Linked DNA regions of Homo sapiens. The protein of the gene in region 2 interacts with the protein of the main gene of each other region in a pairwise test. Each region holds a gene or a part of one and is shown on either strand. Other genes may lie near its edges. The genes, in order: QPRT, SUFU, MAGEL2, SLC41A3, ZNF114, ZNF763 and BRAF.

Evidence for each region.
Region 1: the proteins of SUFU (region 2) and QPRT interact in a two-hybrid assay, tested with the Homo sapiens proteins (one large-scale study listed by BioGRID and IntAct).
Region 3: the proteins of SUFU (region 2) and MAGEL2 interact in binary tests that used the Homo sapiens proteins (3 or more experiments, as listed by UniProt).
Region 4: the proteins of SUFU (region 2) and SLC41A3 interact in binary tests that used the Homo sapiens proteins (3 or more experiments, as listed by UniProt).
Region 5: the proteins of SUFU (region 2) and ZNF114 interact in binary tests that used the Homo sapiens proteins (3 or more experiments, as listed by UniProt).
Region 6: the proteins of SUFU (region 2) and ZNF763 interact in binary tests that used the Homo sapiens proteins (3 or more experiments, as listed by UniProt).
Region 7: the proteins of SUFU (region 2) and BRAF interact in a protein complementation assay, tested with the Homo sapiens proteins (one large-scale study listed by IntAct).

What each region holds. Positions count from the first base shown.
Region 1 is NC_000016.10:29,685,680-29,689,179, reverse strand, and holds part of QPRT (nicotinate-nucleotide pyrophosphorylase [carboxylating]), read right to left. Parts: intron 1-3,500. UniProt on the Homo sapiens protein: Involved in the catabolism of quinolinic acid (QA).
Region 2 is NC_000010.11:102,625,972-102,629,471, reverse strand, and holds part of SUFU (suppressor of fused homolog), read right to left. Parts: intron 2,298-3,500; coding exon 2,229-2,297; intron 1-2,228. UniProt on the Homo sapiens protein: Negative regulator in the hedgehog/smoothened signaling pathway. Down-regulates GLI1-mediated transactivation of target genes. Down-regulates GLI2-mediated transactivation of target genes. Part of a corepressor complex that acts on DNA-bound GLI1.
Region 3 is NC_000015.10:23,645,068-23,649,038, forward strand, and holds the start of MAGEL2 (MAGE-like protein 2), read right to left. Parts: upstream 2,801-3,971; 5' UTR 2,676-2,800; coding exon 1-2,675. UniProt on the Homo sapiens protein: Probably enhances ubiquitin ligase activity of RING-type zinc finger-containing E3 ubiquitin-protein ligases, possibly through recruitment and/or stabilization of the Ubl-conjugating enzyme (E2) at the E3:substrate complex.
Region 4 is NC_000003.12:126,070,625-126,074,124, forward strand, and holds part of SLC41A3 (solute carrier family 41 member 3), read right to left. Parts: intron 1-3,500. UniProt on the Homo sapiens protein: Na(+)/Mg(2+) ion exchanger that acts as a predominant Mg(2+) efflux system at the mitochondrial inner membrane.
Region 5 is NC_000019.10:48,283,581-48,287,080, reverse strand, and holds part of ZNF114 (zinc finger protein 114), read right to left. Parts: intron 1,321-3,500; coding exon 203-1,320; 3' UTR 1-202. UniProt on the Homo sapiens protein: May be involved in transcriptional regulation.
Region 6 is NC_000019.10:11,968,040-11,971,539, reverse strand, and holds part of ZNF763 (zinc finger protein 763), read right to left. Parts: intron 1-3,500.
Region 7 is NC_000007.14:140,778,430-140,781,929, forward strand, and holds part of BRAF (serine/threonine-protein kinase B-raf), read right to left. Parts: intron 3,265-3,500; coding exon 3,147-3,264; intron 1-3,146. UniProt on the Homo sapiens protein: Protein kinase involved in the transduction of mitogenic signals from the cell membrane to the nucleus. Phosphorylates MAP2K1, and thereby activates the MAP kinase signal transduction pathway. Phosphorylates PFKFB2.

The DNA.
Region 1 (3,500 bases), on a different chromosome or scaffold from region 2:
GAGGTTGCAATGAGCTGAGATTGCGCCATTGCAATCCATCCTGGGTGACAGAGTGCAATTCGGTCTCAAAAAAAAAGTTAAATTTAAAAACAAACAAAAGGCTGGGCGCGGTGGCTCACGCCTGTAATCCCAGCACTTTGGGAGGCTGAGGCAGGCGAATCACCTGAGATCAGGAGTTTGAGACCAGCCTGACCAATATTATGAAACCCCGTCTCTCCTAAAAATACAAAAATTAGCCGGGCATGGTGGTGTGCGCCTGTAGTCCCAGCTACTCGGGAGGCTGAGGCAGGAGAATCGCTTGAACCCAGGAGGCAGAGGTTGCAGTGAGTCAATATCGCGCCATTGCACTCCAGCCTGGCCAACAAGAGCGAAACTCAGTCTCAAAAAAAAAAAAAAAGAGAATAAAAACAAACAAAAAATTAGCCTGAGGTCAGGAGTTCAAGACCAGCCTGTCCAACATGGCAAAACCCTGTCCCTACTAAAAACACAAAACTTAGCTGGGTGTGGTGGCATGTGCCTGTAATCCCAGCTCCTCGGGAGGCTGAGGCACGAGAATTGCTTGAACCTAGGAGGCAGAGTTTGCAGTGAGCCGAGATAGCACCACTGTACTCCAGCCTGGGCGACAGAGTGAGACTCTGTCTTAAATAAATTAATAAACAAACAAATAAATAAAGTAACTTTGATGGGCTCACTCAGAGGTTCTGTCTATAGCCAAACCTCACTCAGGTTCCCTCAGCTCTTTTCCAGTTAGGCCTTGGACTTCCGTGTTCACCTCTGCATCGTCCAATTTTAGCAAGAATACTGCTAAGTCAGCTTAGCCAGTCCCTCATCCTCCACATCTGATTGCCCCCGATCCCTGATGGGGGTCCTCATTCTCCACTCTCCCCCAGGCGCTGTCTGACCACCTTGGCCTGCCCTCAGCAAGAATCCCTTTAGGTTGGTCTTGTCAGAATACCCCCAACCCCCAGTGCTTTCTCATGGTAATGTCCCATCCACTGCCCCCAACTCTGCTCGTTGGCTATAACCCCCATGGTGTAGAGTTCAGCCCAGTTCTGATCTAAGGTCACTCTTCCCCTACAGCAATAGTCTGGAATGCAATATGTTTTTGCTATTTTAACGACTGTCTAGTTCTGGTTTTCTTTGATCACTCTCCTGCTGAAAACTGACCTTTCATGGTTTCAGCTCCAGTTCTCTTGACTTTTTTCTTTCTTTCTTTTTGAGACAGAGTGGAATGCAGTGGTGCAATCATGGCTCACTGCAGCCTTGAACTCCCGGGCTCATGTGGTCCTCTCACCTCAGCCTCCTGAGTAGCTGCTCCACCATGCCAAGGTAATTTTTTTTTTTTTTAATAGAGACAGGGTCTCAAACTCCTGGCTTTTAAACATTTTTTTCTTTTTCTTTTTTCTGAGACAGTCTCACTTTGTTGCCCAGGCTGGAGTGCAGTGGCATGCAATGGAAAAGGGATGGACCCCCGAGCTTTGGCAATAAAAGTAGACTCACTGCAGCCTCTGCCTCCTGAGTTCTCCTGCCTCAGCCTCCTGAGTAGCTGGGATTACAGGCATGTGCCACCATGCCTGGCCAATTTTTGTATTTTAGTACATTTCTGTATTTTATAACAGCACGAGGAGGTCATTATTGTCATCCCTGTCACAGATTAGGAACCCAAGGCCCCTGAGGGTTGTCTCCAGTCCACAATCACTTAGTGACAAGTGGCAGAGCCAGGGCTGGACCTCAGGTGTGCGGCCCCAGAGCCTGGGCTCTGATTCACTGTGCTACGCAACCTCTCTGATGGGATAAGTATCCTAGCTCACATACTATGAAGCTAACCAATATAAAATTGCCAATATTTGGCCGTTTTGACCAATAAAAGCAGCACATTTATATGGTTCAGTATACGAAGCACTTGGATATAGCAGAAAACTCAATGGCCAGACACAGTCTTTGCCCATCGAGAGGAAACAGCCGTAGACTGTGATGATGGGGGAAGAACAGGAAGCACAGAGGGACCAGGATCTAACCTCCGGGCGTGTCTGTGAGGCCCCTGCTGAGGAAGTGATGTTTAAGGGAAGACCTGCAAGAGGAACAAGAGCTGAAGGGGGAGATTGGGGATGAGGATAAGGGAAGGGGCTTCCAGGCCAAGGCACAGTCCTGCAACAGCATAGGCTAAAGCCTGACAAGTAAGAGAAAGAGCTGCCCACGCTGTTGCCTCCATGCCTAGCAATTATTAACACCCCACACAGTGCAGGTGCTCAATGAGGATGTGTCAGAGAATCAGTGAAAAATGGAAAGAAGTTGCCAGGTGTGGAGGCTCATGTCTGTTAATCCCAGCACTCTGGGAAGCCAGGGTGGGAGGAAGACAAGGCCAGGAGTTGGAGGCTGGGCACAGTGGCTCACGCCTATAATCCCAGAACTTTGGGAGGCCGAGGCAAGTGGACCACTTGAAGTCAGGAGTTCAAGACCAGCCTGGCCAAGATGGTGAAACCCCGTCTCTACTAAAAATACAAAAAATAAAAAAAATTAAAAAAATAAAAAGCCGAGCGCCTGTAATCCCAGCTACTCGGGAGGCTGAGGCAGAGAATTGCTTGAACTTGGGAGGCGGAGGTTGCAGTGAGCCAAGATTGTGCCACCGCACTCCAGCCTGGGCGACAGAGCAAGACTGCGTCTCAAAAACAAAAAACAAAAGACTTTATGTTTGAAAGCCCTTAGGAACACTGTCTAGCACAGGGTAGGCGTGCTCGCGAAGAAAAGAAGCGTTTCTCAAGTGTGGTGGACTCATGGAATAAATGACTAGGTGTCTCTGAGGACCGGTGAGTGATGTTTGCCAGGCAGAGGTGTGGGGTGGGGCTGACATTTGGGGCTGAGAAAACTGATCTGTTCACCTGCAGACAGTGTCGGGGTGGGGGCAGTGTGGGATTCACAGGTGACATGGTGGGAGGAGAGGCCACAGGGAGAAAGAACTAAACTATTTAGCTGAGGAATTTGGCCAGATCGCAGAAGCCATCATAAAATTTCATTTTATTGGCCGGACACAGTGGCTCACACCTGTAATTCCAGCACTTTGGGAGGCCGAGGTGGGCCGATCACCTGAGGTCAGGAGTTCGAGTCCAGCCTGACCAACATGGTGAAACCCCGTCTCTACTAAAAATACAAAATTAGCCGGGCATGGTGGCACATGCCTGTAATCCCAACTACTCAGGAGGCTGAGGCAGGAGAATCGGTTGAACCCGGGAGGTGGAGGTTGCCGTGAGCTGAGATCCCACCATTGTATTCCAGCCTAGGCAACAAGAGCGAAACTCCATCTCAAAAAAAATTTTCTTTTCATTTTATTTTATTATTTTTAAGTAGAGACGGGGGGTCTCGCTATGTTGCCCAGGCTGGTCTTGAACTCCTGGGCTCAAGCAGTCCTCCCACCTCGGCCTCCCAAAGTGCTGGGATTACAAGTGTGATCCACCATGCCTGACCCATCACAGAATTTTAAAAGAGGGAGTGATATGATTATG
Region 2 (3,500 bases):
AATCCCCACCCTGCTCCCTGTATTCATTCGCACCACTTCCCAGGGTTACCAGCCTCAGAGTGGTCCCAGTGGTGGCCAAGGAGAGCCAAATGTCTCCCACCCCATCCCAGGATACACTGATTTGCCTACAGTTCTGTTTCTCCCATTCACCTGGGAGTTTCTGGTAGGGGAAGGGGAAGAGGCTGATGCCTCTTATTCCCTCTTTACTGTAGAACTTTGCATGCAGTCTGGCACACAGATGGAGCTCAATAAATGCTCACTGCCTGGGACTGATACCGGAACTTAGACACAGGGTCTGTCTTTTCTTTTTCTTTTGAGACGGAGTTTCGCTCTTGTTGCCCAGGCTGGAGTGCAATGGCGCGATCTCGGCTCACTGCAACTTTTGCTTCCCGGGTTCAAGCGATTCTCGTGCCTCAGCCTCCCGAGTAGCTGAGATTACAGGCATGCACCACCAAGCCCGGCTAATTATTGTATTATTAGTAGAGATGGGTTTTCTCCATGTTGGTCAGGCTGGTCTCAAATTCCCGACCTCAGGTGATCCACCTGCCTCGGCCTCCCAAAGTGCTGGGATTACAGACATGAGTCACTGCGCCCGGCCCAGGGTCTGTCTTTTCTAATTTGGCTAGGCCGGAAGTCAGGGCAGGGTGGAAAGGAGAGAACAGTGTTCTCAGCCTGCCTCGGTCTGGGGCTGGAGGCAGACGAGCCTGACCCTTCCTGGCTGCCTCCCTCTTCGCTCCCTCTGCTGGGGGACTGTCTCTGCCAGGACCAAAGTGGCGAGTGAGGCAGGGTGTAGGGACAGCCTCTGGACAGAAAAGGAAAAAAAGAAAAAAGTCATTTTTAGTGACCTACTTTCCTCTGCTCCCCCAGGCTTCTGTCCCTCTTGCCTGGACTGTCCCCCTCCTACCCCCAAGCTCAAAGCAGCAGCCTGGCACAGCGCCATCCCAGTGCGACAAGGCCTCTCCGGAAGCGCTTCTGGGCAGCTGGCTCTGGTCTGACTGAATGGGGAGCTGGGACTCAGGGACCAGTGACTTGTGGGGGTTGATTGGCTGGCATGGACTGGGTGCTTGATGGCTTTGGAATATATAAATGAACAAATTTCTCAAGCTGCATCCCAGAGGACAGAGGAGACCCTGCTCTATTGAGGTGACCCTGGCTCTGGGGAGTTCCTGTCCAACTGGAGACCTGGACTGGACGGTCCCGCCCTGTGCACTCCCCTCAGCTTCCTAAACACCAGAGGCCTGTGTCCTGGCTGTTGCAGCCCAGGGAGCCCTGGAAGCTGGAAGCTCCAGCCCTGGCTGGAACCTAGCTCCCGCCTGGCCTCCCTCTTGGTAGAAAGCCTGGCCCCTGGGAGGCGAAGGAGTTCTCCCCCAAGCACATTTCCTGGCAGACAGGACAAGGGAAGGGTCTGCCTCTGCCACAGGCAGGGCAGGGCCCAGGAGAGCTCTCCAGAGGCCCGGCCAGCCTGCTAGAGTTCACTAACCCATGGGGCACTGGGGCCAGGAAAGCTCCCATCCCACTGGGGTGCTGCGGGCAGGAGCGGGGGAGGGGAAGGGATTTTCCAGGATGAGGTAAGCCCTCGCAAATAAGGATGCCGGGAACAAGGGAGAAAAAACAAAGGGGATTATGGACTCCATTCCTCTACCCCAGAGGAGCAGCTAAAGAAGGCACAGCCACAGCTGGCCTGCCAGCTCCTCCAGCTCTGAGCCAGGGCTGGAAGAGGGAGACTAAGAGGCACAGCTCATGGCTGGAGGACGAAGAAGGGAGAGTGGCTCCTGGGTGGCCCGAGGCGAGAGCAGGAGTCCCTTGCTGCCCACCAGAACTCCCCAGCGGAATGTTCTCTGGCAACAGACATGGGCGTTCTGTTCAGAATCTGCCAGGGAACAGCAGGGGCTGGGGAGAACTCGTACTAGCCTGAAGGCCCTGGCTTCCTCTTCAATGAGGCTCTCAGGAGCTGGCAATTCAGACGATTTGCTGGGTGTCCTTACAAGGGCTGGGGGTAGGGCAGGGGATGGTGAGGGTGCATAGAAACAGAAGAGAAATCTACAGTCTCCTCTCCAGCCTATCCCTGCACCTTGGGGAGGAGCCCACAGATGCAGCCACACAGATACATGCAAGCACACACGCACCACAGGTACACACGCACACATGCATGCACAGACGTGCACACGCACGCACACACATGGTCCCAGAGACGGGACCTGTTGTCAGGAAAAGTCAAACAAGCTTACTTCCTCTGGAGAAGTCAAATCTTCTAAATCCTCCAACATTTTCTCTACAAACTCTTCGGTCAACAGAATCTGTGAAGGCACAAGGCAGGCTTTTATTATTATTTTTAAATGTATGATCTTTTTGCCAACCACCAAGCGTTATACCTCTCTTCTGACCATGGAGGAGAGATGAGCTCACTGTGATCTGTTCAAGGGACACAGGGAAGTGTTTGAGGCCTGTCCCCAGCTGTCATTCCCCCCACACCCTCACCTCCCTGCAATATCAGACTGAGGCATAGAAGGAAAGGGGTCAGGGGACAATGGGGAGGGGAGGGAGGACACTGGGAGAGCTGGGAATGCTGCTCCCAGAAGGGAGATGAACACTGGTGGGGCCGGTAAAAAGGAATCTCAGGAAGAAAAAGGAACAGAAAAGAAAAATTAAAAGGAAAAAAAATTAAATTAAAGCTGCTGCCCAGTCAGGCTCTAGTGTCCCCCTCTGCCCCTCACCGTAGAAGGACAAAAGGAAACTGTTTGGATTTGGAATACAAGCCCTATCTGGAATCTGGAAGTGCCCTGGAAGGTACATCCAAGAATGTCTGAGCTGGAGAATCTGGAGATTGTGGACCAACGTCTCATTTTACAGATGACAAAGGGACTCCCAACTTCCATTCCCATTCACAGTAGCCACATCCTCCCAGGCTGGAAGCTCCCAAGCCCCTGACCTGCTGTGCTCGATCAGCCACTGAGTTCCTCCAGCCTTCTTTGAGGTTCCTCTTCTCTAGGTCACCTCCCAGCATTCCACGTTGCTGTTCTAGTCTGACACCTCATTGCCTCTCGCTTTGATGCTGAGTCTGGCCCCACTATTTGGCTGGCACAAACACCAACTTCATCCGCTAAAGAAGTTTTCACAGCCAATACCAACGTCCAAGGGCTCTCAGGCCCTCTAAAACCGGCCTTCCTCAATCTGCTGGGCCATTCTTCCCCACCCACCCCTCTCGTCAGGCTGCTAGGCAGAGCCAGGCCAAGCTGATCCCAGGTCTGCACCCCACCACGCCCTGGGTGAGGGTGTCTTTCCTCTTCCAACTGTGACCCCTTCCTTCACCCCTCCCCCTCCCTGTCCTTGTCCCCAGGGCCTCCCAGCCTCCCTCCACTGCAGACCCTTCTGTACCCCCAGGCCACAGCTCTACCTGTCTTCTCCCGTACACCTTGAGCACCCAGGTAGGGCACAAAGGAAGAAAGATAATGGGGTGAAGATCCAGGTGAGGGGCTCCTCTGAGGGGAAACCCTCCCTGT
Region 3 (3,971 bases), on a different chromosome or scaffold from region 2:
AGATGCTTCTTCTTCCGGGTGGCCTTGCCGGAGCGGCGTGGCGGCTCGACGGAGGTCTTGGAGGCCTCTTGAGTGGTGGCAGTTGCCTGGGGGGCAGCTGCTGTAGCCATCAGGAAGGTGGGCACTGCCTGCGATGCCTTTGAGGCATTCATATTGGGCTGTGGGACCCATGGAACTGCAGGCAGGGCCTCTACACAGGCAAAGGGATCCTGCAGAGCATATGGCAGTGACTTTGGGGTCTCTGAGGCAGCAGAGGGGCCTTTAAAGGCATTCAGAGAGGCAGGCTGAAACTGGGAGGTAGCTGGGAAGACACTTGAGGAGGGAGCAAAGGTCTCCGGTGTGGCAGGCAGGTTTTTCCAGGCAGCTGGCAGGTGTGCTCGCGCAGCTGACACTGCCTTGGGAGCACAGAAGGTGGCAGCAAAGATCATGCGGTCTTTTGAAGGGGCCCTGCGCTCCTTCGAGGAGGTCCTGCGCTCTTTAGAGGAGCCCCTGCGGTCTATAGAAGAGGCCCTGCATTCTCCTGATGGAGTCATCAATGATTTAGCGGAGCCCAGGGGAAAATTTGCCGCTGCTACCGGGGGTCCGGGCTGGGCCTGCAAGACTGCAGGCGGTGCCTGCCAGGAAGGCTGGAGCGGCAGTGTGGGCACCTCCGCTTGCGGACCCGATGCCTGGGCCTGCTGGGGGGGTAGCTGGATTTGCACGGCTTTTTGGGAGGGCGGGGCTCCCTGAAAGGGCTGCTCCAGCTGGACCAAGGGGGGAGCCTGCCTCTGGGCCTCCTGGGCAGGCAGGGGCTGCCAGATGTGAGTGGGGGCCTTCTGGGCCTGCCAGGCCAGCGCCTGTGTCTGCTGCACCTCCTGGAATTCCATTGACGTTGGAATCTCGTGTGGCACCGGGGGCTGACCTTTGGGGGCCTGCCAGATGATGGAAGGGCAGTGCACAGCCTGCGGGGCAGACAGTGGGGCAGACAGCGGGGCCGGCAGCACAGGCTGGGGCACCTGCGGGCCAGCGGGCGGCGCCGCGGGTACCTGCGTAGCAGGTGGGGCCGTAGGCACCTGCGGCGCCGCCTGCACCTGCGGGGCCGGCAGCCTAGCCTGCGGGGCCTGCCGCAGTGGAGGTGGGGGTGGCAGGGCCTGCCAGAGCGGTGGCTGGGTGGCCAGGACCTGTGGGGCAGGTCGGATGGGCGGCGGCGCCTGGCGGATCAGCGGCGGGGCCTGGCGGATCACAGGTGGAGCCTGGCGGATCACAGGTGGGGCCTGGCGGATCACAGGTGGGGCCTGGCGGATCACAGCGGGGGCCTGGCGGATCACGGGTGGGGCCTGGCGGATCACGGGTGGGGCCTGGCGGATCACCGGTGGGGCCTGGCGGATCAGCGGTGGGGCCTGTCGCACCGGTGGTGGGCCAGGGCGGATGGGTGGTGGGCCAGGGCGGATGGGCGGGGGCCCCTGGCGCATGGGCGGCGGCACCTGCCAGGTAACGGCTGGTGCCTGCCAGGTGACCTGCGTGGTCTGCCAAGTCAGGGGAGTGGCCTGCCAGCCTTGCTGCGTGGCCTGCCATCCTGGCGAGGTCGCCTGCCAGCCCGGGGGTGTGGCTAGCTGCGCTGGGGGTGCCTGCGGGCCCTGGGGAACCTGCGGAGGAGCCCTTATAACTTGAGACTGGATTTGCAGGATCAGAGGCTGAGCCTGCGGGGCCCAAGAAGCCATCGGCTGTGCAGGTGGGGCCATCGGCTGTGCAGGTGGGGCCGCCGGCTGTGCCATCGGTGCTCCTGAAGCTGGAGGCTGGGTCATCGGAGCTCTCGCACCTGGAGGATGAATCATCAGGACTCCTGGACCTGGAGGCTTGGCCATCGGTGCTCCTGAAGGCTGAGGCTGGGTCATCATGGCTGCTGGAGGCGGCTGGACCATCGGTGCTCCCGGAGCAGCAGGCTGGACCATCAGGACTCCCGGAGTCAGAGGCTGGGCCATCAGGACTCCCGGAGCTGGAGGCTGGGCCATCGGTGTACCCGGAGGGGGAGGATGAGCCATCGGTGTCCCCGGAGGTGGAGGATGAGCCATCGGTGTCCCCGGAGGGGGAGGATGAGCCATCGGTGTCCCCGGAGGGGGAGGATGAGCCATCGGGGTCCCCGGAGGAGGAGGATGCACCATCGGGGTCCCCGGAGGAGGAGGATGGGCCATCGGGGTCCCCGGAGGAGGAGGATGGGCCATTGGGGTCCCCGGAGGGGGAGGGTGGGACATTGGGGTCCCCGGAGGAGGAGGATGGGCCATGGGAGCTCCGGGAGCTGAAGGATGCACCATCAGGACTCCCGGGGTCGGAGGCTGGGCCATCGGGGCTCCCGGAGGTGGAGGATGCACCATCAGGACCCCGGGAGTCGGAGGCTTACCCATCGGGCCCCCCAGCGGGGGAGCCGGGACTATCGGGCCCCCTAGGGCAGGAGGCTGGGTCATCGGAACCACCGGGGCGGGCAGCTGGCCCTGTGGGGCCTCCCAGGCAGGCTGAGGTGCCTGCCAAGCGGCCAATGAAGCCTGCAAGTCAATTGGAGGTGGATCCCAAGGGACTGGCGGAGCCCGGGAGGAAGCGGGCGGGGCCCGCATCAGAACCGTAGGGCGGCTATAGACAGGCGGCTTCGGGGCCTCCGCCGGAGGACTCGAGTCACCCAGATTCTTACTTAGCTGCGACATGTCCCTTTGCTGACAGCTGGTGGGTCTTTTCCTCGGACAGCTGCTGGGCCTTTTCCTCCAGAGAGAAGAGAATGCCTACGTGGCTGTTCAGAGGCTCCCTCCCTGCTGAATGCTGAATAGGAAGTGAGTGCTGCTCGCTCCGCAGCTTTCCGCAGTAAGGAGGAGGGGGGAAGGGGGCTCAATCCCGCCCCTTCCCCGCCCCCGACCACCACAAGTGGATATTGCATAGGGGCGTCTACCGGAGTCCTGGCTGACACAGGATCCCTTCTCACTCTGTCCAGTCCCCAAATGCAGACCAGTCAGACTCCACATGGATGACTTTTCACAGGGGAGTGACAGGAACCCATCCATGTTTTAGAAAAATCACTGTACTGCAGTGTGGAGTGGGAGCAGACCACTGGAAACATGGAAGGTATCCAAGACGGCGGGGGGAGATGGTGTGGTCTGGGCTAAGATGTGAGGCGGAGAATGAAAAAAGCGCATTTACATAAGAGAGTTCCAGGAGTTATAGCAGACAGATACCTGTATTATAATTGAATAAAGGAGTCAAAGACATGGAAAAGGCACACAAGTCCCTGCCTGGAGAAAGTGGGAAGTTGCAGGGACTGTTACTCTCTTAGGGTCCCAGGAGAGGCACACGGGAAGAGAGGCTGATGAGTATTGGCAGACACAGGGCATTTGCGGTGCTGTGGGACTGCCAAGGAGAGATACCCTGTAGGCACTCCTGTATGATGTCTTGGGAGTCCTGCTTGGCTATTCCTCATGAAAATAGAGTTGTGGGAGGGAATGTGGTTGCACTGGGTCTTGAAGAACACAGGCATGTTAGAGACACATGGAGAAAAGGGACAGCAGCGAGTAGAGAGAGAGGAAAAGAAGTCACGGAACTGAGACATGCCACACATCAGTGGAAGACAGCATTTTTAGTATGGGAAAACTGCCTGTGGAATGGCTCGGATGCAGGAACAGAGTAGGTTTCTCAGTATTTTTCATCTGCAGAATGGGAAAGAAATTTAAAAAATGAAAACCAAATAACGCACCTGAAGATAACAAAATGGGTATATAAATAGATCAAAAATTGATATATTTGGATATATAGGAAAAACAGGCAAAGAATAAAAAAATTTCTGGGGAAACTTCTCGTGACAAAAATCAGTTTAAATATGAGACAAATCAAGTATTAACAGATAAAGCAGATGACAATAGTATTATTGGGCAATGCTATACAACTTTATGGTGAGAGGAAGTGATAATCTCAGTAATTGAAAAGCTTTCTGGAAATATACAAAGCACTAAATA
Region 4 (3,500 bases), on a different chromosome or scaffold from region 2:
AAGAATTCTTAACTAGCAAAATTATCTTTTCAAAGTAAAGGAGAAATTAAGAGATTTTCAGATAAACAGACACAGAGCATTCGTCCCCAGCACACCTGCCCTAAAGGAAACACGAAAGGGAGTCTTTAAGGCCGAATTAGGATCCTAGACACTAGCTAGAATCCACACAGAGGAAGGAAGAGCATCGGCAAAGGTAACCACCTAGACAGATTTTTTTTTTTAAGTATAAACACATTTTTGTTAGTAACTCTTTTTACTCTTATCCAATTTAAAGACAACCACATAAATCAAGTTGGAATTAAGTTGTTATTGATCCAAACACGATTATTATAAACCAAGGTGCTGATTGTAATCCTCAGGGCAACTGCTAAGAAAAAAAAATATAAAAGAAATAACAAGTGAATAAAAGTGATACACTAGGAAAGATCTACTTAGTACAAAACAATGCAGTAATGGGGAAACAGGGAAAAAAGACATTAGACAGACAGAAAACAAATAGCAAAATGGCAGACATAAATCCCATCTTATCAATTATTACATTAAGTATAAATGGATAGGTTGGAAGTAAAAGGATTTAAATAAATATACCATGCAAACAATAACCAAAAGATAACTGGAGTGGCTTTAATACTATTAATAATATCAGGCAAAACAGACATAAAAACAAGAATTCTTACTACAGACAAAGAAGGATATTTGATAATGATAAAAGGGTCAATCTATCAAGAAGCTATAACAATTACAAACGTACATATGCCTAACAACAAAGCCCCCAAATACATAAAAGTGGCAGAACTGAAGGAAGAAAAAGACAATTCAATAATAATAGTTGGACATACCTCACTTCCAACAATTGATAATACAATTTGACAGAATTTCAACAAAAGAAAGAGGACTTCAACAACATTATAAACCAATTAGATCAAACACATCTATACAAAACACTCCGCGCAACAATAGCAGAATACTCAATCTTATCAAGTGCACATGGAACATTTTGCAGGCTTGATCTATCTTAGGAAAAATAACTTCAATAATTTAAGACTGAAATCATACAAAATATGTTTTCCAACCACAACAAAATAAAATTAGAAATCAATAACAGAAGGACATTTAGGAAATTTATAAATATGCGGAAATTAAACAACTTTTTTTTTTTTTTTTGAGATAGGGTCTTATTCTGGCACCCAGGCTGGAGTGCAATGGCATGATCACAGCTCACTGCAGCTTAGACCTCTGGGGCTCATGTAATCCTCCCTTCTCAGCCCCCCAAGTAGCTGGGACTACAGGTGTGTGCCACCATGCCCAGCTAAATTATTTTTTAAAGTTTTGTAGAGATGGGATATCACTGTGTTGCTCAGGCTGGTCTCAAACTCCTGAGCTCAAGTGATCTGCTCACCTCGGCCTCCCAAAGTGCTAGGATTACAGGCATGAGCCACCATGCCCCAGCCCATACTCTTAAATAAGTAATGGGTCAAAGACAAAAATCACAAGATAAATTAGAAATTTCTTTGAGATGAATGAAAATGAAAATACAACATGCCAAAAAATCATGGCATGTGTTAATGTAGTGCTTAGAGGGAAGTTTATAGCTATAACTATCAATTTCTTTAAAAAGAAATGAACAAATTAATAAATCAATTTTCCACCTTAAGATAAAGAGGAGCAAACTAAACCCAAAAAAGTAGAAGGCAGGAATTAATATAGATTAGACTGGTAATAAATGAAAGAGAATTGTAAAAAAAAATAAAAAAAAAAAAAGGCCAGCAAAACCAAAAGTTGGGTCCTTGAAGAGATCGACAAAACTGACAATCCTTTATGTAGACTGATGAAGAAAAAAAGACAGAAGACTCAAATAGTTAAATTAGGAATGAAAGAGGAAACATTACAACCAAAACTAAACATAACTATAAGAGAATATATGATTAACTGTAAGCCAACAAATTGGAAAAGCCACCAGTCAGAATGGCTATTATTAAAAAGTCAAAAAATAACAGATGCTGGTGAGGTTGTAGACAAAAGGGAATGCTTATACACTGCTTGTGGGAATGTAAATTAGTTCAGCCATTGTGGAAAGCAGTGGAGGTGATTTCTCAAAGAACTTAAAACAGAAGTACCATTCAACCCAGCAATCCCATTATTGGGTGTATACCCAAAGAAATATACATCATTCTACCATAAAGACACACGCACAGGTATGTTCATCGCAGCACTATTCACAATAGCAAAGACACAAAATCAGCCTAATGCCTGTCAACAGAAGACTGAATAAAGAATATGTAGTACATATGCCCATGGAACACTATGCAGCCATGAAAAAACAAGATCATGTCATCTGCAGCAACATGGATGGAACTGGAGGCCATAATCCTAAACAACCTAATGCAGAAACAGAAACCCAATACCATGTTTCACTTATAAGTGAGAGCCAAACATTGGGTACACATGCATATAAAGAAGGGAACAACAGACACCAGGGCCTACTTGAGAACAGAGGGTGAGAGGAGAAAGAGGATCAAAAAAACTACCTATCTGGCCAGATGCAGTGGCTCATGCCTGTAATCCCAGCACTTTGGGAGGCCGAGGCAAGCAGATTGCTTGAGCTCAGGAGTTGAAGACCAGCTTAGGCAAGATGGTGAAACCCTCTACAAAAAATACAAAAATTAGCCAGTCATGGTGGAGTGTACCTGTAGTCCCAGCTACTCAGGAGGCTGAGGCAGGTGGCGCTTGAGCGTGGGAGGCGGAGGTTGCAGTGAGCCGAGATTGCACCACTGCACTCCAGCCTGGGTGGCAGAACAAGACCCTGTCTCAGAAAAAAAACAAAAACAAACAAACAAAATCCAAAAAACTACTTATTAGGTACTATGTTTATTACCTGGGTGACAAAATCATCTGTACACCAAACCCCCATGATACCTAATTTATAACAAACCTGCACATGTACCCCTGAACCTAAACGTTAAAAAATAAATAAAGCTAAAAAAATTAGAAAACCTAGATGAAATGTACAAATTCCTAGAAACACAAACTAGTAATACTGACTCGTGAAGAAATAAAAAATATTAATAGATCTACAGATAAAGAGATTGAATTAGTAATCAAAAAACTTCCCACAAAGAAAAGCTTAACACCAGATGGCTTCACTAGAGAAGTCTACCAAGCATTTAAAAAAAAATAACACAAATCCTTCATAAACTCTCAACAACAAATTGGAGAAGGGAACACTTCCCAACCGCTTGTATGAGACCAGTGTAAAGACAACCCAAGAAAGCTACAGACCAATGTGTGTTATGAATACAGACACAAAATCCTCAGCAGAATACTAATAAACTCAAGCCACTAGTACATACAAAGACTTTTACAATATAACCAAGTGGGATTTATTTCAGGAATGCAAAGTTGGTTCAATATATGAAAATCAATGTAATACACCAAATTAATAGAATAATGGGGAGAAAACATAGCTCAACAGACACAGAAAAAGCATTTGGCAACAACTA
Region 5 (3,500 bases), on a different chromosome or scaffold from region 2:
CAAATGTCTACTCAAGATGAATGAAGATGAAAGGCTTTCTGTAGACTTTACCTTCACAGGGTTTTTTTTCACATTTCTGTAAGATACGAGAGTTCAGGGAAGATGTTCTCACTCATGCTAACCCCTTGAGCTCCCTTCCAATATGTCCTCCTCACATGTTTGGTACAGTCAGAAAATTAATGAAAAATTTTCCACCTTCCTTTCATTCACAGGGCTTCTCATCTTTGTGAGTCTTAAGATGTTTTTTAAGTCCTGACGACTTTGCAAAGTCTTTTCCACATGTCTTACATTTATAGGGTTTCTCTCCAGTGTGGCTCCTTATATGTGTATATTTTGAGGACTCCCGAATGACTTTCCCACATTCTTCACATTCGTAGGGCTTCTTCTGCACAACATGCTTTCTTAAATGTTTATTAAGGTGTAAGGAATATCTAAAGGCTTTCCCACATTTCCCACATTCATACGGTTTCTCTCCAGTGTGAATTTTCATATGTCTCATAAGGAATGACTGATAAAAAAAGGCTCTCCCACATTCGGGGCATTTATGGGTTTTCTCTCCAGTGCAATGACTCTTGTGTGAACCGGAATTTGGAGCGTTGGCAGAGGTTGCCCCAGTTTGACAATCCTTCTTGTTTGTCTCTGCGGTATACAACTGCATCTGCATGGCGTGAATTGAGTTATTTCTGGAGGTGTTCTCGCACTGAGTAAAATCATACATTTTCTCTCGACCATGAGTGTTGTGTGCCCTAAGGGATCCGTCTTCACGGAAAGCTTTTCCAAATGGATTCCGCTGGTGCCTGTTGGCCCCCGTATCAATTTCATCACGTATATGATGCACAGTGTTCTGACTGCCAGTCCATGTGCTTGATTTCAGCTCTGTTTTTCTCCCACACGGAACCCACTGAATGTTCCACCCCAAGACTCCATCGTCTTCGTTGTTTTCATGTGTTTTTTGACTATCGTTTAAGACAGGATTATACTTGAAAATACTTGAGTCACGTGTTAGGATACATTGTCTTATGGAATCTCCCTGTGAAGGCACAAGCCTGCAGGTAGGTTTAGAGTGGTTCCTCATTTCATGATCTTCACAAATGCTAACAGGAGATTCATCTTTCTCAGGGGCAACTGCAGGTGGCTTCACATTATTCACCCCCTGCCTGTGTGGTTCCTCTGTTTTGGGGCATCTCCAGTCTTCTCTTAATGTGGAGTGCTGGGAACTGATGCTCGTGAGACACACTCTGTTGGCTTCAGGAAATGTTCTTTTAGGAAGAATATCCGGCTGAGGGGTTGCGTCTTTGGTTTTACATGGAGTTGCCCAATCTGAAATACAGTGGCACAAAAGTTAAATTCTTTGTTGAAAGTAAAGGTGGGTTAGAGATGATGACATAGGCAATCTCCGTGTGGATTTCTCTCTTTCTTTCTTTCTTTCTTTCCCTCCCTCCCTCGCTCCTTCCATCCTTTCTTTCTTCCTTCCTTCCTTCCTTTCTTTCTTTTCTCTTTCTTTCCCTTCCTTCCTTCCTCCTTCCTTCCTTCCTTCTTTCCTCTCTCTCTCTCTCGTTCTCTCTGTCTTTCTCTCTTTTCTTTAGACAGAGTCTTACTCTGTGGCCCAGGCTGGAGTGCAGTGGCATGATCTTGGCTCATTACAACCTCCGCCTCCCAGGTTCAAGCAATTCTCTGGCCTCAGCTTCCTGAGTAGCTGAGATTACAGGTGCGTGCCACCATGCCTGGCTAATTTTTGTGTTTTCAGTTGAGATGGGGTTTCACCATGTTGGCCAGGCTGGTCTTGAATTCCTGGCCTCATGTGATCCACCTGCCTCAGCCTCCCAAAGTGCTGGGATTACAGGCATGAGCCAACGCGCCAGGCCTCTGTGTGGATTTCTTTCTAAATGTTCACTCAACATGTATGATAAAAATGTGAAGGGGAAGAAAGCAAGAGGAAGGAAGCAGAGAAAGACATCAGAGATTCTGCAGTGTCAGGAATGTGATGACGGTAAGGTCAGGGGTTCAACATGGAGAGTGTCATGTTACTGAGGAACAGTTCTGCAGAGATCAAGGAAACGATCAGGAATTCTAAGTGGAAGAGAATTGGACAGAGAGTCCATGTGAAATTTTTATTTTTTTGAGATGAGGGTGTCACTAGGTTGCCCAGGTGCTGGAGTGCAGTGGCTGGCTATTCATAGGTGTGATCACAGCACACTGCAGCCTTGAGCTCTTGGGATCAAGTGATCCTCTTGCCTCAGTCTCCCGAGTAGCTGGCTCCATGTGCAATTTTAAGGAGAAAAGGAACAGGCCTTTAGCAGGGAAAAATGAAAATATGAGAGGATGGATAAAAGTCAAAAAACATAAGCTTGGACAGGCACAGTGGCTCACGCCTGTAATCCCAGCACTTTGAGAGGCTGAAGTGGGTGGATCACCAGAGGTCAGGCGTTTGAGACCAGCCTGGCCAATGTGGTGAAGCCCCGTCTCTACTAAAAATAGAAAAATTAGCTGGGCATGGTGGCGTGTGCCTGTAATCCCAGCTACTCAGGGGGCTGAGGCAGGAGAATCACTTGAATCCGGCAGGCAGAGATTGCAGTGAGCTGAGACTGAGCCACTGCACTCCAGCCTGGGCAACAGAGTGCCTGTTTTTTTCTTTCTTTTTTTTTCCTTTTAATTAAAAAAAAATTGTTTTTAAAGACAAAAAGAACAGTGTTTTGCCATGTTGGCTGGGCTGGTCTCGACTTCCTGGCCTCAAGTAATCCTCCTCCTGCCTCAGCCTCCCAAAGTGCTAGGATTACAGGTGTGAGCCACTGTGCCTGGCCTATAGGTCTCCTTAGCTGCTCTGTAGATAACAACTTGAAAATTATAAAACATTAAGTTTTCTCTTTGAGATATTCCTTCAGGTCCTGCATTCTGATGAAATGACTATGCTCACTGATCTGAGGAATGCCGTGAGAAACTGACGCACCAAAGAATGTACTTTCCTCATCCCGATGATTTCATCCCCCTTCCTCTGACCAATCAACGTCTCCAATTCTCCAGTCCCTTATCCTCCATGATCCCCTTAAAAATGAGAGCAGTGGCTCATGCCTGTAATGCCAACACTTTGGGAGGCCGAGGTGGGCGGAGCACTTGAGGTCAGGAGTTTGAGACAAGCCTGGCCAACACAGTGAAACCCCGTCTCTACTAAAAATACAAAAATTAGCCAGGTATGGTGGTGCATGTCTATAATCCCAGCTACTCGGGAGGCTGAGGCAGAAGAATTGCTTGAACCCGGGAGGTGGAGGTTGCAGTGAGCCGAGATCGCGCCACTGCACTCCAGCCTGGGCAACAAGAGTGAAACACAGTCTCAAAAACAAAAAAAAAACAAAAACCCCAGAACCCCCCAGGGAGAAGAATTTGAGCGTCTCCTCCCATCTCCTCGGTTGGCACCATGTAATCATGCAACTTTCTCTTTTCTCTGTTGCAAACCCTGCTGTCTCAGTGGCGAGCCTGTTGCTCTGTTACCATGCTGCTGGCTT
Region 6 (3,500 bases), on a different chromosome or scaffold from region 2:
AAGAAAAAAGTACTTCTAAAAACTGAAATAGAAGACAATGACTAAGAACAGCCAAGATGCTCTATAGAATATGGTTGGAGGGTGTTACGGCATGAATATTTGCATCACTCTAAAAAAATCACACATTAATAACCTACCCCCCACTATAGTATTAGAAGTTGACATCTCTGGGAATTAATTAGGATTAGATGAGAGCATAAAGGTAGATGCTTTCCGAATGAGATTAGTGCTCTTATAGGAAGACACAGGACAGCCAGCTTCCTCTCTTTTCTGTCATGTGAAGAAACCACAAGATGACCATCTGCAAACCAGGAAGCGGGCCATTACCAGACACTAGATCTGCCAACTCCCTGAACATGGACTTCACAACCTCAAGAACTGTCAGAAACAAATGTTTATTCTTTAAGTTACCCAGTCTATGGTAATTTGATGTAGCAGCCCAAGATGACTAAGATAGAGAAGCAATATCCCTACTATACACTGCAGCTTTGAACTCTACACTAATTAAGAGAAAATGGTATTAACAGAGAGATGGAAGGACAGACCAATGGAAAACAGCAAATTGTGAGACCAGGGCATCTAGTTTTTTAGTTTTTTTTTTATTTTTTGAAATGAGGTTTCACTCTCCTTGCCCAGGCTGGAGGGCAAAGGCGGGATCTCGGCTCACTGCAACCTCCACCTCCCAGGTTCAAGCGATTCTCCTGCCTCAGCCTCCCAGGTAGCTAGGATTATAGCCATGCGCTGCCATGCTCAGCTAATGCTGTATTTTCAGTACAGATGGGGTTTCACTATATTGGTCAGGCTGGTCTCAAACTCCTGACCTTAGGTGATCTGCCAGCCTCAGCCTCCCAAAGTGTGTGAGCCACTGCACCTGCTCTGGACATCTATTTAAGGTAATATGAAACTATGACAAACCAGGTATTGCCAGCCAATGATACAAGTGGTGAACACTTAACAGAAAAAGCAGGGACAAATGGTTATCTACAGGAGAATAATCAATCTACTACTCATCATCTCCATATACAATAATTTAATTAATTCTAGAGTTACCTGTTACAGTGAATTCTTTTATTTATATGTTACCTTAGCATGCATTTTCTTTATGGATTTAACGTTGTTATAACAGAAGAAAACTTTACTCAAACTCTGAACAGTTTCTGGTTCTCCACCTCCTCCCAGTTCCTCCATGTGGTTAACTCACATATGGGACTTACTCAGCTGCATTCTGGTGACCACCTCCCTGTGGGACAGCTAAATACATCCTTGTTGGAGTGGCCTTTCCTTGTCTTTTGGGATATTTCTCTCTTCACAGTTGAGACAATCCAGAGGACAGGAATCATCTCTGTTTTTCCTCATTAGCAACATCCGATTGGCAGAACAGCCATGTGTCTCCAATTAATGGAAAGTGGAGTTGGGAGACAGAAGCTGAGCACCCCAAGAATTGGTTATGTAGATGAAGAGTATACCAGGCATCTCCTCCACCATAAGGCATTCAGCTGCTCCCTCGGGAGGTCCCACTCCCCTAAGGCACTAATACCCATGAGACCCTCCAGGAGACATGGCAGTTGTGGGGATCTTGAGCCAGCCCCAGGCAATTCTAAAACCCAAAACCAGGAAAAGATAGGAGGGTGTACTGAAGACACATCACCCTGTAAAGTTTCCAGAAAGGAACCTCATCCCAAAGACATCCTGATAAGGTGTCTGTGTCTAGGAAAGATAAAAGGAGGAGAGGCAGAAAGGATTTTTCAGGCAAATGTCTAGTGGTTATTCTCTGCTTTCCTCTCATGTGAAATGTTCAGAAACAGATTTCACTGCAAGCCCTTGAAGAGTTAGGCTGTGGTATGAGGGTGGAGGATTTGAGACGCTGCATCCCATATATTTGGAAAATGTAAGGGGAAACCAGTTGCCCTGGAGAATGTGAAAAAATTTAAATAAGAAGCAATGAGGCCAAACTGTGTGAGGTGTCCTAAGGTCCTACCTAAGGATCCTGAAATCATATTTAAATACAACTCGTGAAAATTACTAATGTATAGGGAAATGAAATTTATGCTTAATCAGGCACAATCCACCAATTAACCGCTGATTACATAACTAGAAATTTTCTACCTATATAGGCTGTGTGAACAAGTAAGTCAGGCCCGGTGCAGTGACTCCCACCTGTAATCCCACCACTTTGGGAGGCCAAGGTGGATGGACCACTTGAGGACAGAAGTTCAAGACCAGCCTGGCGAACGTGATAAAACGCTGTCTTTACTAAAAATAGAAAAATTAGCCGAGTGTGGTGGCACGCACCTGTAATCCCAGCTACTGGAAAGGCTGAGGCCAGAGAATTACTTGAACCCAGAAGGCAGAGGCTGCAGTGAGCTGAGATCACGCCGCTGCACTCCAGCCTAGCCGACAGAGTGAGACCCTGTCTCAAAACAAACAAACAAGCAAAAACAACCAAGTAATTCAAAAATTTAAGCTGATGAATCTCTACATCATCTTGAAGCAATGTGATCATGGGGTTGAGTCACATGACACACAACTTTCACCTAGCTAGCTGGAACCCTCCTTTCCCTGATTACAGATTTGCCTTCTTTCTTACCTATAGTGTTTTGTAAAATGTTGTAAATGACTGAAGGGAAACAGGAAAGACCCTTTCCCTTGTCACTGTCTTTTTAAATTTAATATGATTTTTCACAATTGAGATGGGGTCTCACTATGTTGCCAGGCTGGTCTTCAACTCCTGAGATCAAGCCATCCACCTGCCTCGGCCTCCCAACGTGCTGGGGTTACAGGTGTGAGCCATCCCGCCAGGCCCCTCTCTACTACTGATCTCTATAGTACACTAATTTCCCTCTTAACTTTCTCACACAAAGACTCCATGGCTATCATGTTGTCTTCAGCTAGAATATTAAATTCACTTTTTTAAATTGAAAAGGAAATATAAACCAGCTAGAAAGAAAAGAAAACAAGCTCTGGGGGAAAAAAGCAAACCACTACAAATTAAGTTGTTATCCACATGCATTTGCTCATGTCTATAATCCCAGCACTTTTGGAGGCCAAGGAAGGAGGACTGTTTGAGGCCAGGAGCAAGAGACCAGCCTGAGCAACATATCGAGACCCCACCTCTGTAAAATACAAAAAATTAGCCAGGTGTGCTGGTGGGCAACTGTACTCTCAGCTACTGGGAAGGCTGAGGTGCTTGAGCTGGGGAGGTCAAGGCTGCAGTAAGCCATGATCGCACCACTGCTCCAGCCTGGGCCACAGAGCTAGACATTGTCTCAAAGAAAAAAAAAAATTAAATTATTGTACCTCATACATCAGCCTTCTATGGAAAATGTAATCCTGTTACATTTATTTGCCTTTTGCCTATATAAGTGTTAGGGAAGCAAGTGCCTAGGGGAGCCAGAGAAAGACCAATCAGCTCCATCTTGAGACTAACAAGAAACACTCCTTGCCAGTCACAACCCATGGTCATAACATGTTTGACATTAAGAAAACAGCCTGAAGATGCC
Region 7 (3,500 bases), on a different chromosome or scaffold from region 2:
GTAATGTTGAAACTACAATTACCAGGCCCTATGGAATTTTGCTTAAAAGTAGGAAACTATAAAACTTTTTTATCAGAGTAGTTAACATTTTTTTCAAATTTATGGATTACTTATGATACTTTCAATTAGGAAAATGACTAAAACTGTCACTAAAATTTAAAAAAAACTTCATGTGAGTTAATGGGTGCAGCACACCAGCATGGCACATGTATATATATGTAACTAACCTGCACACTTTGCACATGTACCCTAAAACTTAAAAGTATAATAATAATAAAAAAAGAAAATGATATTTTATTAAAATCATCAAAAAAAAAAAACTTTATGTGAAACAGCTGTAACGTCAACACTGCCAGTAGGTGTTTAAATTGGTACAACTACTTTGTAACATTGTTGGCAGCATTACTAAAACTGGACATATGCATACCCTGTGGTCTCACAATTCTGTCCTAGGTATATATACCCATCAATGGTTACATGTTCACCAAAAGACATACACTAAAAATGTTTACAGCACCAGCATCAATCAAAGCCCCAAACTGGAAACGATCCAATTGCAACAGATGAAAGAAGAAATCATGTTATAGTCACACAATGAAATACTGTAAAGAGAATGAATGACCTCCAACTTCACACAACAATATAGATGAATCTTATAAACAATGTTGAGTGAAAAGGGCCGACACAAAAGAGTACACACTATGCACTTCCTGTTGTAATCACAGTGGTGGTTACCCTTGGGAGAGAGGTGATTGGCTAGAAGAGGACATGGGAGGGTGTTTCTAGAGTGCTAGTAATGTTCTGTTTATTTAATTTTTTTAGAGACAGAGTCTTGCTCTGTCACCTAGGCTGGATGGAGTGCAGTGGTGTGATCATGGCTCACTGCAGCCTTGAACTCCTGGGCTCAAGCCATTCTCCCACCTCAGCCTCCTCAATAGCTGGGAGTACAGGCACATGCCACCATGCCTGGCTAATTTATGTGCACTTTTATACACAGGCTGAGTATCCCTTATCCAAAATGCCTGGGACCAGAAGTGTCTCAAATTTCAAATTTTTTCTGATTTTGGAATATTTTGATTATACTTACCAGTTTAACATCCCTAATCCAAACATATGAAATCCTCCAATAAGCATTTCCTTTGAGCATCATGTCAGCACTCAGAAAGTTTTGGATTTTGGAGCATTTCGGGTTTGGGATTTTGGATTAAAGATACCCAACCTGGCCAGGTGTGCTGCCTCACACCTGTAATCCCAGCACTTTGGAAGGCCAAGGTGGGTGGCTCACCTGAGGTCAGGAGTTTGAGAACAGCCTGGCCAACATGGCAAAACTCGTCTCTACTCAAAATACAAAAATTAGCCAGGGGTGGTGGTACGCGCCTATAATCCTAGCTACTCAGGAGGCTGAGGTAGGAGAACTGCTTGAATCTGGGAGGCAGAGGTTGTAGTGAGTTGAGATTGTGCCACTGCACTCCAGCCTGGGCGACAGAGCGAGACCTTGTCTCAAAACAAAACAAAACAAACAAAAATAAATAAATAAAGATACTCAACCTGTATGTATATTTTAATAAGTTAAATCAACATTGATTTTCCTCAATTATCAAAGTAATACAGTGCTTATTCTACTGTTTGTATCATAAAATACTGTACAGCACTTAAGAAAAGTTTAAAGACATTTTGAAGGTATAAAAAAATTCCCTTAATTATGTCACTCAAAAGTGACATTATATGTTATTAGGCTTTTACATGAATTTAGTGTGAATATTTATGAACACCTGTGAAAAGATAGATTAAGGAGATAAAAACTAAAACACAGTCTTTTTTTTTTTTTTTTTTAAGACAGTCTCGCTGTTATCCAGGTTGGAGTGCAATGGCGGGATCTCGGCTCACTGCAACCTCCACCTCCTAGGTTCAAGCAATTCTCCTGCCTCAGCCTCCTGAGTAGCTGAGATTACAGGCGCCCACCACCAAGCCTGGCTAATTTTTTGTATTTTTAGTAGAGATGAGGTTTCACTATGTTGGCCAAGCTGGTCTCGAACTCCTGACCTTGGGTGATCCACCTGCCTCGGCCTCCCAAAGTGCTGGGATTACAGGCGTGAGCCACTGTGCCTGGCCTAAAATACTGTCATATAAAAAATTATGTTATATATTTCTATGAGCTCCATAATATGGTATCTTACACATACTGCTTTGAAAAATTTCATATACCAAAGACACCTTTCTACATCAATAAATGTACCTCTACCATGCCATTTTAACTCCTATATAATCACATATGATGGTATAAATTTATCCAATTCTCTATTAGTTGGATACATGTTCACTTTCACTTTTCATTGATATTAAACCTTTGATGAAAATACATCCACTACTCTTAATATAATCCAATTTAAAAAGATTTTGTCCAACTAAGAGGCAAATAATGATGTCTATTTTTTGAATTTGCAATTCTTTGATAACTAGTAAGGCTGAACATTTTGTATATGTTTACTGGCCACTTATATTTCTTTGTTAATTTTTTTTTTTTGAGACGGAGTCTCACTGTCACCAGGGTGGAGTGCAGTGGCGTAATCTCAGCTCACTGCAACCTCCGCCTCCTGGGTTCCAGTGATTCTCCTGCCTCAGCCTCCCAAGTAGCTGGGACTACAGGCACGTGCTTCCACACCCAGCTAATTTTTGTATTTTTAGTAGAGATGGGGTTTCACCATGTTGGCCAGTATGGTCTTGATCTCCTGACCTCGTGATCAGCCAGCCTCAGCTTCCCAAAGTGCTGGGATTACAGGCATAAGCCACTGCGCCCAGCCATTAAGTACATTTTTAATATGTTTACTTGTGACTTATAATACAAATAAAATTATCAGCTGAAAGACTCTAAAAGAAAATAAAATCCTTTTGAGGACTAGTTAACCTGGAGGAATTCCCCTTTAAAAATTATTACTGTAATAAAATGGTAGGAGTCCCGACTGCTGTGAACAGTTTTTATTTCCCATAATTTTTGTTAGAAACTTTTGGAGGAGTCCTGAAACTAATCAAAATAGTTTATTGATGCGAACAGTGAATATTTCCTTTGATGATATTTTTTACAAAATAAAAGTTGTTAAACATATCCTATTATGACTTGTCACAATGTCACCACATTACATACTTACCATGCCACTTTCCCTTGTAGACTGTTCCAAATGATCCAGATCCAATTCTTTGTCCCACTGTAATCTGCCCATCAGGAATCTCCCAATCATCACTCGAGTCCCGTCTACCAAGTGTTTTCTTGATAAAAACAGTAAAAAAGTCAAGTCAAGCCAAACAGAAAAAGAAAACCTTATGTTTCACCCTAAGTACATTACCTTATGCCTGAGAGGGATACAGGAAGAGATCCCCTTAAGAAAAATTCTCTGGAAGAATAGTAGTTAAAAGTATGACTCTTAAAATACAAAACTTAAATTTAAGACTGAAGTCAATATTAGGATGGAAAAAATTTATTTTTATTTTTTATTTTATTATAC